2 linked regions of the Homo sapiens genome follow. The protein of the gene in region 1 purifies or fractionates together with the protein of each later gene. This does not show direct contact. Each region holds a gene or a part of one and is shown in the gene's direction. Other genes may lie near its edges.

Region 1 (7,000 bases):
ACTACTGACTGAAAACCAAGAGGGAACAGCTTTACAAATTTCATATTTACAAAAAGAAAAACAAATAATCAAAACTGAATTCTTAATTTAAAGCATCTGCTTATAAGAAGTTGCTTTTACTGTAAAGATTTTTCTGATATTTATTGTAATTTAGATAAATCTCTAGGTTCAAAGCAACTCTAAATTATAGTGTATTTTTTCCTACTTTTGAATGTTCACCAAAAACATCTAATTTTACTTTGAAACAAAGCCAGGATTTTAGAGTACTTACTACTTATATTATTTCTTATTAACCTAAGCCCCACAACAGACAATACTTTATTTCAGTAAAGTATATTTACTCTAGGAGGTGGTGATTTGAGATGAGACACCCTGCCTTATCAGCATTATCGTGTGGATTGGTGAGACTGGGTGACTTCTCAATGAACTATTAGAAGAGGCACAATGTTGTAGGGTGAGGGATATGGAAATTAAGTAACAGAAGAAGACAATCCAGAATATATTATTGTAATTAAAAGGTAATTTTGAAGTCTTTTTTTTTTTTTAGACGGAGTCTCGCTGTGTTGCCCAGGCTGGGGGGCGCAGTGGTGCGATCTTGGCTCACTGCAAGCTCCGCCTCCCCTGGGTTCACGCCATTCTCCTACCTCCACCCCCTGAGTAGCTGGGACTACAGGCACCTGCCACCACCCCTGGCTAATTTTTTTGTTTTTGTATTATTTGTTTTTAGTAGAGACAGGGTTTCACCGTATTAGCCAAGATGATCTCAATCTCCTTACCTCGTGATCTGCCGGCCTCGGCCTCCCAAAGTGCTGGGATTACAGGCGTGAGCCGCCACGCCCGGCCTATTTCTATATGCCAGATGTTTTAAGAGAAGATGAATTTGGTTAACAAGCCTTTCAGTTTCACTGATATTTGCAGCTGTTTTTTGGATACTGAATCACCATAAAATATATTTTGGATATGTCTCTGTAAGAAAGATGAGAATGAAGGACTTCAGGAACCATGATATTGTTTTGTTACTGTTTACTGATTTATGAATAATTAGTTCTGTTCATCTTTATAAGAGATTCTCCTAGATGATTATCAATACCTATAGGTACACAATAGATGTTTAAGTGAATGGAAATAATTAAATACTTAGTTTTAGGTCTGCTGTTTATGTGCTACCTTAGAGCAAGTCACTTAACTACTTTGAGCTCAAGTCACTTAACCACTCTGGGCTTTTTTTTTTTCCCTGTGAAATAAGGTATTTGACTCAATGGTCTCTAATGTGTCTTTTCATTATAACTCTTGCCAGGTATGGTGGCTCATGCCTGGAGTCCCAGCAGTCTGGGAAGCCAAGGTGGGAGTATTGCTTGAGCCCAGGAGTTTGAGACCAGCCTGGGCAACATAGTGAGACTTTGTCTCTATATTTTGCAAAATTTTAAAATATAGATATATGTATGTATGTATGTATATAATTTAACTCTTGCCAAACTTATGGGCAATAAGTAAATGTTTAATTAAATACCTTTGAACACATAGGATTCACTTAGTGTATGTCAATTACCGTATGTGACAGGATATTAAATTGATGGGCATCTGTTTGTGGTTGAGGGAATTATCTAATCTGAATAACTAGATAACTTTCATTTCTGAATTTTTTTTTTCAGTGCATTTGCTGAAAAAAACCCTGCAGAAATGCGAAAAGAATGGGTGGATGGAACAGATCTCTGGGAAAGGGTTCAGTGGCACCTTCCAGCTCTGTTTTCCCTATTATCCCAGGTAAGTACTTAGCCTATAATAGATCACTGTAAATTTATAGTCTAAGTTACACACTCAGTTTAATTTATTTTACCCTTATTACTGTTTTAGTGAACTGGAAATACAGTCGTCCTTTGTTACATATAGGGGATTGGTTACAGAACTGCCCGCATACCCAAATGCGCATGTACTCAGCCCTGTGGAATCCATGTATCTGAAAAGTCTGTCCTCTTTGTATGCAGGCTTCGCATCCTGTGGATGTTGTATTTCTGATCTGTGTCTGGTTGAAAAAAAAAAGTCCACATATAAAGTGGGCTAATGCGTTGCCAACCTGTGTTGTTCAAGGGACAACTGTATTTGAAAATAAAGATGACTTTTAAGGCAGTATTATTTTGGAGTAAAAGGTTTTGTATAAAAATAGTGATTTTAGCCAGGCATAAGATTATTTGAGATCCTCGGATGGTCATTTTGATGTTCATTCCTTCTTTATCAAGTAAATGATAATGACAGATTCTTAGAGGATTATGTATAAGTTTTTGTTTTTGTTTTTTGAGACAGGGTCTCACTCTATCGCCCAGGCTGGAGCAGTGGTATAATCTCGGCTCACTGCAATCTCCGCCTCCTGGGCTCAAGTGATCCTCCCACCTCAATATCCCACGTAGCTGGGACTACAGGTGCGCGCCACCACACCCAGCTAATTTTTGTGTTTTTTGTAGAGATGGGGGTCTTACCATATTATCTAGGCTGGCCTTGAACTCCTGGCTCAAGCAGTCCTCTCGCCTCAGCCTCCCAAAGTGATGGGATTATATGCATAAGTTTTAATTGTCCAATACCAAGTGGGGAGAACATTGACTGTTTTCAAGAATCTTAACTCTACCTCCATACTGTAGAGACAGGAACACTTATCTGAAAATTTGTTTCTTGCAAATACCTTATTTATTCTTTGAAACAAAAAAATATATTGATCACCTCCTGTGGTCCAAGCATTGTTTCATGCACTGGGTTTAAAGCCTTTTGATTTCCAGTAAAGTACATAACATATACCACTAAGACCCTGTTTTAGCAAGACTATTGTGTAACTTTCTTATATTATTATTTCTGTACAAACATAAGTGTTACTTGGCTTAATACATATTATATAAATTTTTCGAACATTAAACATTAAATTTAATTCCCAAAGTCACACACACACAAAATGTTACATTCTGCCAGGTGTGGTGGGATGCACCTGTAGTCCTAACTACTTGGGAAGGTGAGGTGGGAGGATCCCTTGAGCCTAGGAGTTTGATTCCAGCCTGGGCAGCATAGCAAGACCCTGTGTCTGAAAAAGGCAAGAAACACACACACACACACACACACACACACACACACACACACATATATGTATGTATGTTATCATTTAAGGATATGTTAATCAAAGGAATCAAGGTTCATACCACCAAGGACAAAAAAGAGTTTAGGAGATCCTTGCCGAATACCTTTGAAGCTTTGAACAGATTTAGGCCTTTGAGGTCTTTTTTTTTAAGACTTGGAGGTCTTTTGCCAGTATTATGAGGCTGAAGTGTGTATTCCATGCAGACTGTTCATTGCTGTGTACTCATTGGCTAATACAGTGCCAGATACATATTAGGAGTTTAAGTAATTGTTTACTAAATAAATGACTATGGATTAATTTTATTAAATAGTGGGTATAGAATTAGGTATGGTGCAGGACTTTTATAGATTTGGCATAACTTTATATGTATGTTCAAAATACGGTAAATTGTAACCTGATACGTGTAACCTAGCTTGACATTTTTGGGAAGGGTGGGAAGAAGTGGGATATGTCCAGGTAAGAGCATCTAGGTTCACATTATTTTTCTTGTTTTATATGGGACTTGTGTTTTAATCTAATTTTTCCCCGTATAGCCCAGGAGTTCTGTTTCCGAAGAAAGAGCCAGATGATTCTAGAGATGAGGATGAAGATGAAGATGAGTCATCAGAAGAAGACTCTGAGGATGAAGAGCCGCCACCTAAGAGAAGGTGTGGACATGTGAAAACCCCTTGTGGGGAGGACACTAAATACCTCAGAGCTGAAAAATAGTGCTATAGGAGGGGCTAAAGCTAAAAAGCATTTCAGAAACTCAGGATCCTTCTCAAGTTCTTTATATAAATTTGGATTGATCTTCTCCTTTGAAAATCAAGGGCTCCAGACTTTTAGGGCAAGCCTGTGTGTATCCATAGTTTAGTTATTCAAAGAAAAATAATTACATATTTCCCTAGGAACAACGTCATGAAATTGTGTCTAGACTTCATGAATTGGTTGAATTTTTATACAATTTTAGTAAAATCTCTAGTAAAAAATTGTCACATTCCTATTCTTAACGTAAGTGACCACTTCATATGCCGTTTCTCTTTAGAAAGCATCTGGTTGTCCCAACAAAACGAATCTCTTAAGTACTAAATGACGGCCTTTGCTCTTTGGTTCTCACAGGTTGCAGAAGAAAACCCCAGCCAAGTCCCCAGGGAAGGCCGCATCTGTGAAGCAGAGAGGGTCCAAACCTGCACCTAAAGTCTCAGCTGCCCAGCGGGGGAAAGCTAGGCCCTTGCCTAAGAAAGCACCTCCTAAGGCCAAAACGCCTGCCAAGAAGACCAGACCCTCATCCACAGTCATCAAGAAACCTAGTGGTGGCTCCTCAAAGAAGCCTGCAACCAGTGCAAGAAAGGAAGTAAAATTGCCGGGCAAGGGCAAATCCACCATGAAGAAGTCTTTCAGAGTGAAAAAGTAAATTTTATAGGAAAAAAGGGTATCATGATGAAATTCAAAATCTTATTTTCTAAGGTCAGTGTGCATTTGTTTAGTTTTGATGCTTTTCAAATTACATTATTTTCCTCCCCTATGAACATTGTGGGGAGGGACTCTAAATAAACCAGTTTAGGCATTTGCTAGCTTTAGGTGCTTTTATTGGTGCCTGCCCTTTTCCTTGTTCATTTTAATTTCTGCAATAATCCTGGACTTTCCTAAACTATGTAATGTATACTTGTCCTTTTTCTCTGCCTCCCCCAACCCCCTGTTGTTTTTATGGTCAGCTTTGCCTTTTTTTTTTCTTCCAATTTTATCTAAACAGTTGCAGAGATTTTTATATTTGTAGAAAGCATCAAGAACGGTATGCCAGTCAGGTCCTGGAAGTAAAATGGAGGCACAATATAGCACTGACTGAGTTGTAAAGCCTCCTGCCTGGAGACTTCAGTTATAGCTGTAATAATTAATCTTATTTATAAAAGCCACTCCACTAACCTTTTCTCTCCAACTGTAAACACAGAGACAGCTTTGGGAATAAGCCAAAAACAGGGTGATCTCATTAGATTTTGAAGATATATGACTCCTTTGGGCTACATTTCATATTGATCAATTTCTAGGTATTTTTCACTGGCCCAAAGTATTGCATTCCCTTAACAGCAAGCACAAGTTCTCTATATCACTTGTTTTTTGTTGTTGTTGTTGTTGTCGTCGTTGTTTTGAGACGGAGTCTTGCTCAGGTGCCCCGGAGTGCAGTGGTGCAATCTCAGCTCACTGCAACCTCCACCTCCTGGGTTCAAGCAATTCTCCTGCTTCAGCCTCCCGAGTAGCTGGGATTACAGGTGTGTACCACCACGCCTGGCAATTTTTTTGTATTTTTAGTAGAGATGGGGTTTCGCCGTGTTGGTCAGGCTGGTCTCGAACTCCTGACCTCAGGTGATCCGCCTGCCTCGGCCTCCCAAAGTGCTGGGATTACAGGAGTGAGCCACTGTGCCTGGCCTATCCCACTTGGTTTTTGACTGAAGGGGAAGTGTAGAAATATATTGATTTGTGATTTCTGGTGTCACCTGTGTTACCAAAAATCAAAACAAATCTTTTTTATTTTTTATTATTATTATTATTTTTGAGACAGAGTCTCGCTCTGTCGCCCAGTGTGGAGTGCAGTGGTGTGATCTTGGCTCACTGCAAACTCCGCCTCCCAGGTTCAAGCGATTCTCCCACCTCAGCCTCCTGAGTTGGGTCCTACAGGCGCACACGACCACGCCCAGCTAATTTTTTGTATTTTTAGTAGAGTTGGGGTTTCACCATGTTAGCCAGGATGGTCTCGATCTCCTGACCTCGTGATCCACTCACCTCAGCCTCCCAAAATCCTGGGGTTACAGATGTGAGCTACCACTCACGGCCCAAATCTTCTTGATCATATGTTTAAATATATTTTTTAATATTTGGAGCATGAGTTGTCACTTCTTGTTTGCCTTTTTTATAAGGAAATGTTGGAGAGTTACATCATTGCTAATGTAGAAATGTTAAGTGGAAAAATATACAGTTTGGTAAAATAAACTAGATTCTACATTTATTTGTGGGTTTTTTTCCCCTCCTTTCTTTCCACAGCACTTTTGATATCAAGCAAGTGGCTTCCTTTTTGAGATATTAAAAAAAAAAAGAAAAGGAAAAAAGTAAATGAAGCCCAACTACCTAACCCTTTCTTATTTGTATTTGTTTTAGTATTGTGAAGTTGTGTTAAATAGTACTAGCTAGAAATACAAATTTCTGGTTATCATTTCTCTTCCCTGTGGCACTTGACATTTTAATTGTCTTAAAGTTTTTGAAGTACATCTTCTGGCCCCTTGAGTACTGCCAGAGGCAAAAGATGTTTGTTTCTTATTCATTCCACTTTTGTCTCCTGGGATCCCTTCTGTAGCCTAAAGTATGGCTGGGAAATGGACTTGAGAAGATTGGCTTGAATTAGATCATAATCATGTGTGATCCCATCATGAATTCATTGGAATTTGTGTTGCATGTAAGGCAATCTTTCCTGTTGTAAATCTTCCTTTTTTAATGTACATATATTTTGAAAAATATGAATAAACATGAAATTTTAAAAGCTGCTGAACCGTAGCTTATATTTAAAGGTTTTGAGTATAGTATATCCTCAGAAGTAGCTAAGTGTCGCCCTCACTTTAAGTCTTTTCTACTCCTTGAAATGAACACCATCATTTTCCTTTTTAAATACAAGCTCCAGTTCATGTGTTTTGGAATTCTTATAGAGGGTAAACGATGTTTCCAGATACATTGAATGCTAATTACTTAATGAATCAAAGGTTTAAAAAATCATTTTGTATTTTATTAAAGACTGCTTCCAAGATCATAGAGTACAATCATGTTCAATAAATGTTCAATATTCAGATAAGTCCTTGGACTAGAAAAAATTACAGTACTGCAAAAGATAACAGATAAATCCTAGACATCAAATTCTAG
Region 2 (6,881 bases), 5.1 Mb from region 1:
CTGAATCTCCACTCCATATTACATCTTTATTTCTAAACAAGATAAAATCTATTATTTATTATTATTTTTTTTTTATTACCCAAGTTTTGTCTCAGGATCTACTATTCTTATTTTCAAGGTAGTTTTAACTGTCCACATTTCTTAAGCCACATTCAAGAAATAATGTCTTCAATTTTGGATGTTGCCTCTCTTCATCTTGTACATGACATTTAAGCAGATTTAATATTGGCATCCATCATCTAGTCAAACCCTTCACGTGTTCTTCAAAGCAATTAAATTTGGGGTTCTCAACCTTTTCTTTCTTTCTTTCCTTTTTTTTTTTTTTTGAGATGGAGTCTCACTCTGTCGCCCAGGCTGGAGTGCAATGGCGCGATCTCGGCTCACTGCACCCTCTGCCTCCCATGTTCAAGCCATTCTCCTGCCTCAGCCTCCTGAGTAGCTGGGATTACAGGCACACACCACCACGTCTGGCTAATTTTTATATTTTTAGTAGAGACGGGGTTTCACCATGTTGGTCAGGCTGGTCTTGAACTCCTGACCTTGTGATCCACCTGCCACCTGCCTCGGCCTCCCAAAGTGCTGGGATTACAGATGTGAGCTACCGCGCCTGGCCTTTTTTTTTTTTTTTTTTTTTTTTGAGACAGAGTTTTGCTCTTGTTGCCCAGGCTGGAGTGCAATGGCGCAATCTCGGCTCACTGCAACCTCTGCCTCCCAGGTTCAACCAATTCTCCTGCCTCAGCCTCCCAAGTAGCTGGGATTACAGGCATCCACCACCATATCTGGGTAATTTTTCTGTACTTTTAGTAGAGACGGGGTTTCACCATGTTGGCCAGGCTGGTCTCAAACTCCTGACCTCAGGTGATCCACCTGCCTCGACCTCTCAATGTGTTGGGATTACAGGCATGAGCCACCACACCTGGCCAGGTTCTCAACCTTTTCTGTATCAGTAAAAGAAGGTGTGAAATTAATAGATTTGATGAAGACCCGCTTTTTTTCTTGCCACATTGGACTCCTAGATGCCATTTGGAATGGGTTTAGAAGACACGGAAGTATAGATGTTTCTTAACAGTAGAAATATAGAAGAGAAAGCAAGACCATGAGGAGACTGGCAGTTGACTGCAGGGCACAGCCAACTGCCTTGGTGGTGGCATTAGCTGGGTTTGGGGCAGACAAGGTACCCTGGGAGGAGTTACTTGAAAACGTTACAATAGTTTGATTTGAATAAATCTGCATAAGTAGGAGCAGTGCCAGAAGCAGCAGCCCCAGCCTGAGCCTGTCCACCATTGCTTTGTCCCCTCCATTGGTGTCTGGCATATATTGCTGGATGCTGGGTGAGAACTGCTGGCTCCAGGTGGACACAGGCGAGACCTAGCCTTAAAAATCACACAAAGTGGCTGGGTGCGATGGCTCACATCTGTAATCCCAGTACTTCGTGAGGCCAAGGTGGGAGGATCACTTGAGGCCAGGATTTGGAGATTAGCCTGGTCAACATAGCAAGGACTCATCCCTATTTTTTTTAACTAAAAATAATGTAAAATCATAATAAAAAGGAAATCAAGCCTGGGCAACATAGCAAGATCTCATCTCTACTAAAAAGAAATTAGCTGCGTGTGGTGGTGCACACCTGTAGTTCCAGCTGCTGGGGAGGTTGAGCTGGAGGGATCACTTGAGCCCTGGAGGTTGAGGCTGCAGTGAGCCATGATCGTGCCACTGCACTCCAGCCTGGGTGACAGAGCCAGACCCTGTCTTGATAAAAAAAAAAAAAAAAAAGGAAATCACATAATGTCACTTATGCCAGAGTTAGTCTGCCGAGCCATGATTCAAAGGGAGGGACATTCACCCCACTTCTTAATGGGAGGGTTATCCAATCATGTTGTAGGAAGAGCATAGACGATGGGAGGCACTGTCATGGTCATCTTTGGAGAACAAAATCTGCCAGACCTGGGAACCTGAGCACCACTAGACCAAATATAACAATTAATCAATGATTCAAGCCTCAACTGATTCCTTGATACCACCACTGGGCAATCCTAGAACATTTCTCAGCTAAACTTGCTTCAATTTGCAATGGTTATTTCAAACATTCACTGTAGAAGGCACTGTGTACATCTTTCCTAATACCCATTCCCAGCCCCCCTTTTCCCTATTTATGTCCTTTAGGCAAAGCTAAATACTTGCGTTCCTAGCCTCTCTTGCATCTATGTGACACAATTCTGTCCAGTGAGATGTAAGCAAAAATGTGCACAGGGACTTCTGGGCAAGCTTTTTCCTTGAATAGGAAAATGATGCGTGCAGTGGAGGCAGCCAGCCATATATTGCAACCCTCAGGAAAAGGTCAAGACAATTACAAAAGTATTGGCCCTGATTTCAGTGAGCCACTCAACCAGTGCTGTTGCTACCTCCAGGCCTTCTCTCCTGTGAGAAAACAAACCCTTGTTTGTTTAAGCCACTGATAGTCAAGCTTTCTGTTGCTCCTAGGGGATATAAGCATTCTCACTCCCCTGTGCCTCTACTTTCTCTTTTTTTTTTTTTTTTTTGAGACAGAGTCTCGCTCTGTCTCCCAGGCTAGAGTGCAGTGACCTGATCTCGGCTCACTACAACCTCCGCCTCCCGCGTTCAAGTGACCCTCCTGCCTCAGCCTCCCGAGTAGCTGGGACTATAGGTGTCCGCCACCATGCCCGGCTAATTTTTGTATTTTTAGTAGAGACGGGGTTTCACCATATTGGCCAAGCTGGTCTCGAACTCCTGACCTTGTGATCCGCCCGCCTTGGCCTCCCAAAGTGCTGGGATTACAGGCGTGAGCCACCGCGCCCAGCTCCTCTAATTTCTCTTTGTAAAAGCCTTCAGCTGCTAATTCTCCCTTTCCTGCCACCAACAGCCTACTTACTACCTACTTACCTGCACCCACAGCCATCTTATTTGCTCCTTCTCTCCTGTTAAAATGGAAAAGGGCTCCCTACCATGGAGGGGGAGTGGGAGTAAATGGAAAGATGCTAATCTGGCATCCATTACAAGTTCATCTTTCAGTTTTGGTTTTCTTACTCATCCGCACCTTAGTTCTGGGCCTCTACCACTCATCAGCTGTGTGCCTTAAAAACAGGCCATTAAAGTAGCAAATATTTATTGAGTAGATTCTAAGCTGTGCCCAAAAAGGCACTGCGCTAGGTGGTAGGAGTTGCTAGGGCTAGGAAACAGACACAGTCCAAGTAGAGAGAAAATTATTTACAAGACAGGGGAATGGAGCCTTGGAGGAACTGACCTATGTGGCTGGGAGGGCAGAGAATGTGGGAAGAGCTCGGAAGAAGGGGCTGGGGAGGTAGGCGTGGGCCACAGCCAACTGGCTTCTGTAGACTAGGGAGGGTAATGATTTTGGTTTCAATCCTAAATCACTAAGACAGGAAGTGAATTACTCTGTCGGAGCCTCAATTTCTACCTCGAAAAATATGTTTTATTACTAACTCCTGTACTAGATTGAGAGTTACGGAGAAGGATTTATCCTTTTATTCATTTCTGCATCGCCAGCGCCCGACACATGGTAGGCGCTTAATCAATGCCTGTTCGGTGAATAAATAAGACCGGGGACTCCTCCACAGACTTCTGTCATTAAGTCAACCAGTCAGCAGAGATTTCCTTCTCCGCGTTCCTTTCCTTCCCTCCCCTTTTCTTGCCCTTCCTCCCTCTCCTCTTCCACGCCCCCTTCCCACTCCTCCCCCTCCTATCCTCTCCTGGCTTCCTCCTCCTCTTCCCGGCCCCGCCCCCCGCTGCGTTGCGAAGGCGGGGAAGGCGAGGCGGGCTTTACGGCAGCCGCGTTGCGGCGGGGCGGGGCGCCGGGCGGCCGGCGCGCTTGGCGGCAGCCGTGGGAGGCAGGCCGGCAGGCAGACGGACTCGCAGGCGTGTGGCGGCGGCCGTGCTTGCTAGTGAGGGCGGGAGGGAGTGACTCACTGAGCGTGTGTGAGGGAGGGAGCGAGCGAGCGAACGAGCAGCCGGCGCCGTCCTCCCGCAGCACCAGCCAGGCCACGCCGCCGCCTCTTCCCCTGCGCCCCGCGCCCAGGCCGGGCCGAGCCGAGCCGAGCCGGGTCGGGCCCGGGCCATGCTGCTCACCGTGTACTGTGTGCGGAGGGACCTCTCCGAGGTGACCTTTTCCCTCCAGGTCGACGCCGACTTCGAGCTGCACAACTTCCGCGCGCTGTGCGAGCTCGAGTCTGGCATCCCCGCAGCCGAGAGCCAGGTACGCCGGGCAGCGAGCCGGGCCTGCCCCGGAGCTAAGCCCTCCCCGCCTCGGGGCCTCACTCCCTCCCTTTGCTACTGGTGAAGAATTGGGGGCTGGGGGGAGCAAGGATAGCCATTCTCAGGTCACCCCCGCATCCGGAAAGGAGCTGGGGAGCTGGCATCAGTAGCTGCCCTCACACACTCCGAGCATGGGGTGGGGTACGAGGAGAGGGAGCGGAGAACCTGACCGCAGACGCACCCACTGCAGCGTGAGGGGCGCGTGGACTGTTGAGCAGCGCTAACCCTCCCCACCTTTGGCTCTTTGGCCCTTCCCTGTTTCTAATCCCGAGTGTAGGATATCGTTGTGGACCTCAGAAGCAGCCCTGGGTTTGCTAGGATTCATACATCCTGCAAACCAGAAATACCAGTTTGGATCACTGTGGTAGATAGATGTTCCTCTGCTTTTTTTTTTTTTTTTTTCTGGAGAGGGTTTCTGCTTAAATATACGCAGTTTACCTTTAAATGCACAGATTTGCACTTCCGGTGAAAGAAAAAGTTTAAGACTTGCACTACCTCATTTTGGGGTCTTTGGAAATGCTCTTTACCCACCACATGCGTTTCTGGTTAAATTCTTTTGAAAAACAGTACCTATTGGTTCAACTCAAGCTGTTTGTTTGTTTCGGTTCTACCCTGGTAGTAAGCCAGAAGGCCCTTTTTCTTTCAGGTCACAGTTCAGAGTTTGGGTCAGTTCAAAGCTCAATGCTTTAAAAGGATATTTGCTTGGAAACGGCCTAGTATCAGTGCTGTTTGGTGGTTTCATTTCCCTACTCAGCTTGCTGGAAAGAAGTTCAGCCTCTCATATTTTAACTAAGCAAAGTAATTCTCAAAATGCTTTGGGGCTGCCCCTAGTCTTTATCAAACAGAATCGGTGACACTAACGCTGTAAACTTTACACTAAAACACTTAGATCATGACTTAATAAATTTAGCCTGGAGGAAATAGTCTAAACATTAAGAAAATTATAGAGGTCTCCCAAGTCTCCATCAAGTAAATCTTGATTTTCTACTGCAGTTATGAAATAGTTTACAAAACGATTGCCCAACTGCAGCTTGTTCTGCTGTCTTATGGTAAACACGTGTCAATACTTTGTTCAGAAGTATGATTCCTTTACACAATGTGAACTTTAGAACCTTGGCATAAAGCTGTTCAGAAAGAATTTAAAAAGTTAATCCACAAAAGCTCAGGAACCAGTTCTGTCAGTGAATGCCTCATGTGGAGAACTAGGAAAGGACTGTTTAAATAGAGAAAATAAACTCTTCAATTTTTTTTCTTTTTTTGTTTTTGTTTTTGAGACGGAGTCTTGCTCTGTCGCCCATGCTGGAGTGCAGTGGTGCGTTCTCGACTCACTGCAACCCCAGTCTCCCGGGTTCAAGCGATTCTCCTGCCTCAGCCTCCTGAGTAACTGGGACTACGGGCGCGCGCCACCACGCCTGGCTAATTTTTGTAATTTTTTTTTAGTAGAGACGGGGTTTCACCATGTTGACCAGGCTGATTTCAAACTCCTGACCTCTAGTGATCTGCCCGCCTCGGCCTCCCAAAATGCTGCGATTACAGGTGTGAGCCACCGTTCCCGGACAACTCTTCAATTTTTGATAGTGGCTTTTTCTTTTCTTTTCTTTTCTTTTTTTTTTTTCGAGACGGAGTCTCTGTCGCCTAGGCTGGAGTGCAGTGGCGCGATCTCGGCTTACTGCAAGCTCCACCTCCCGGGTTCGTGCCATTCTCCTGCCTCAGCCTCCCGAGTAGCTGGGACTACAGGCGCCCACCACCGCGCCCGACTCATTTTTTGTATTTTTAGTAGAGAAGGGGTTTCACCATGTTAGCCAGGATGGTCTCGATCTCCTGACCTCGTGGTCTGCCCGCCTCGGCCTTCCAAAGTGCTGTGAGCCACCGCACCCGGCCCGATAGTGGCTTTTTCAATTGTTTTTTCCTCTAGCTGTTATATTACCCTGGTTATGATCACCGGCTGGTAGGGAAAATAAGAAATTAAAATGTAAATTGATTTTGTTGTTAGGGCTTGGGAAAAGACAGAGGTTGAGGTTGTTTCCATTCCTGCACTTTTTGTGATGGCTGAAACAAGAAATTTAAGTCAAAGGGATACCTGACACCCCCTTTAATTGACTTAAATTTCTTGTTACAGCCATCATAAAAGACGATTTATTGTGTGGTCAGCCAGACATTGCCCTCTGCCAGTTGGTAAAGTTAGGAATACCTTAGTAATTGAACATAGGCTAACTCCAAATTATTTCTTGTTCATTATGTCAATGTTTCGGCATTTACTTCCTTCCCAAGCCAAATTAGCATATAGAAACTTGGGCTCCAACTGGTGTTAAGCCTGTATTAGATAGCCATAAACAGCTCCTGTTTTTCCAGTCTGTTCTGTTGGCTCCATTGTAACCTGACAACACAGTATCTATTTTAAGGTGTCTGGTGGTCGGTTGTCTTTCACTTGCTTGCTTGCCCATCAGGCAGGAACAGGATCCACCCTAGACACTTGAGTCATTTCCTTTCATCAAATCATAATAGTAAACATCACTATAGTTTTTACCCATAAATATATCATGTTTACTTACTTGAGTGTCCCCCCCCATTACCTCCCAGGGTTCTCTCATATT

What was found.
Region 2: the proteins of HP1BP3 (region 1) and DDI2 purify together in Homo sapiens (affinity purification with mass spectrometry; 2 studies listed by BioGRID and IntAct, with this or other methods). This does not show direct contact.

Annotation. Positions count from the first base shown.
Region 1 is NC_000001.11:20,742,308-20,749,307, reverse strand, and holds part of HP1BP3 (heterochromatin protein 1-binding protein 3), read left to right. Parts: intron 1-1,652; coding exon 1,653-1,764; intron 1,765-3,651; coding exon 3,652-3,765; intron 3,766-4,216; coding exon 4,217-4,511; 3' UTR 4,512-7,000. UniProt on the Homo sapiens protein: Component of heterochromatin that maintains heterochromatin integrity during G1/S progression and regulates the duration of G1 phase to critically influence cell proliferative capacity.
Region 2 is NC_000001.11:15,613,581-15,620,461, forward strand, and holds the start of DDI2 (protein DDI1 homolog 2), read left to right. Parts: upstream 1-3,877; 5' UTR 3,878-4,090; coding exon 4,091-4,228; intron 4,229-6,881. UniProt on the Homo sapiens protein: Aspartic protease that mediates the cleavage of NFE2L1/NRF1 at 'Leu-104', thereby promoting release of NFE2L1/NRF1 from the endoplasmic reticulum membrane.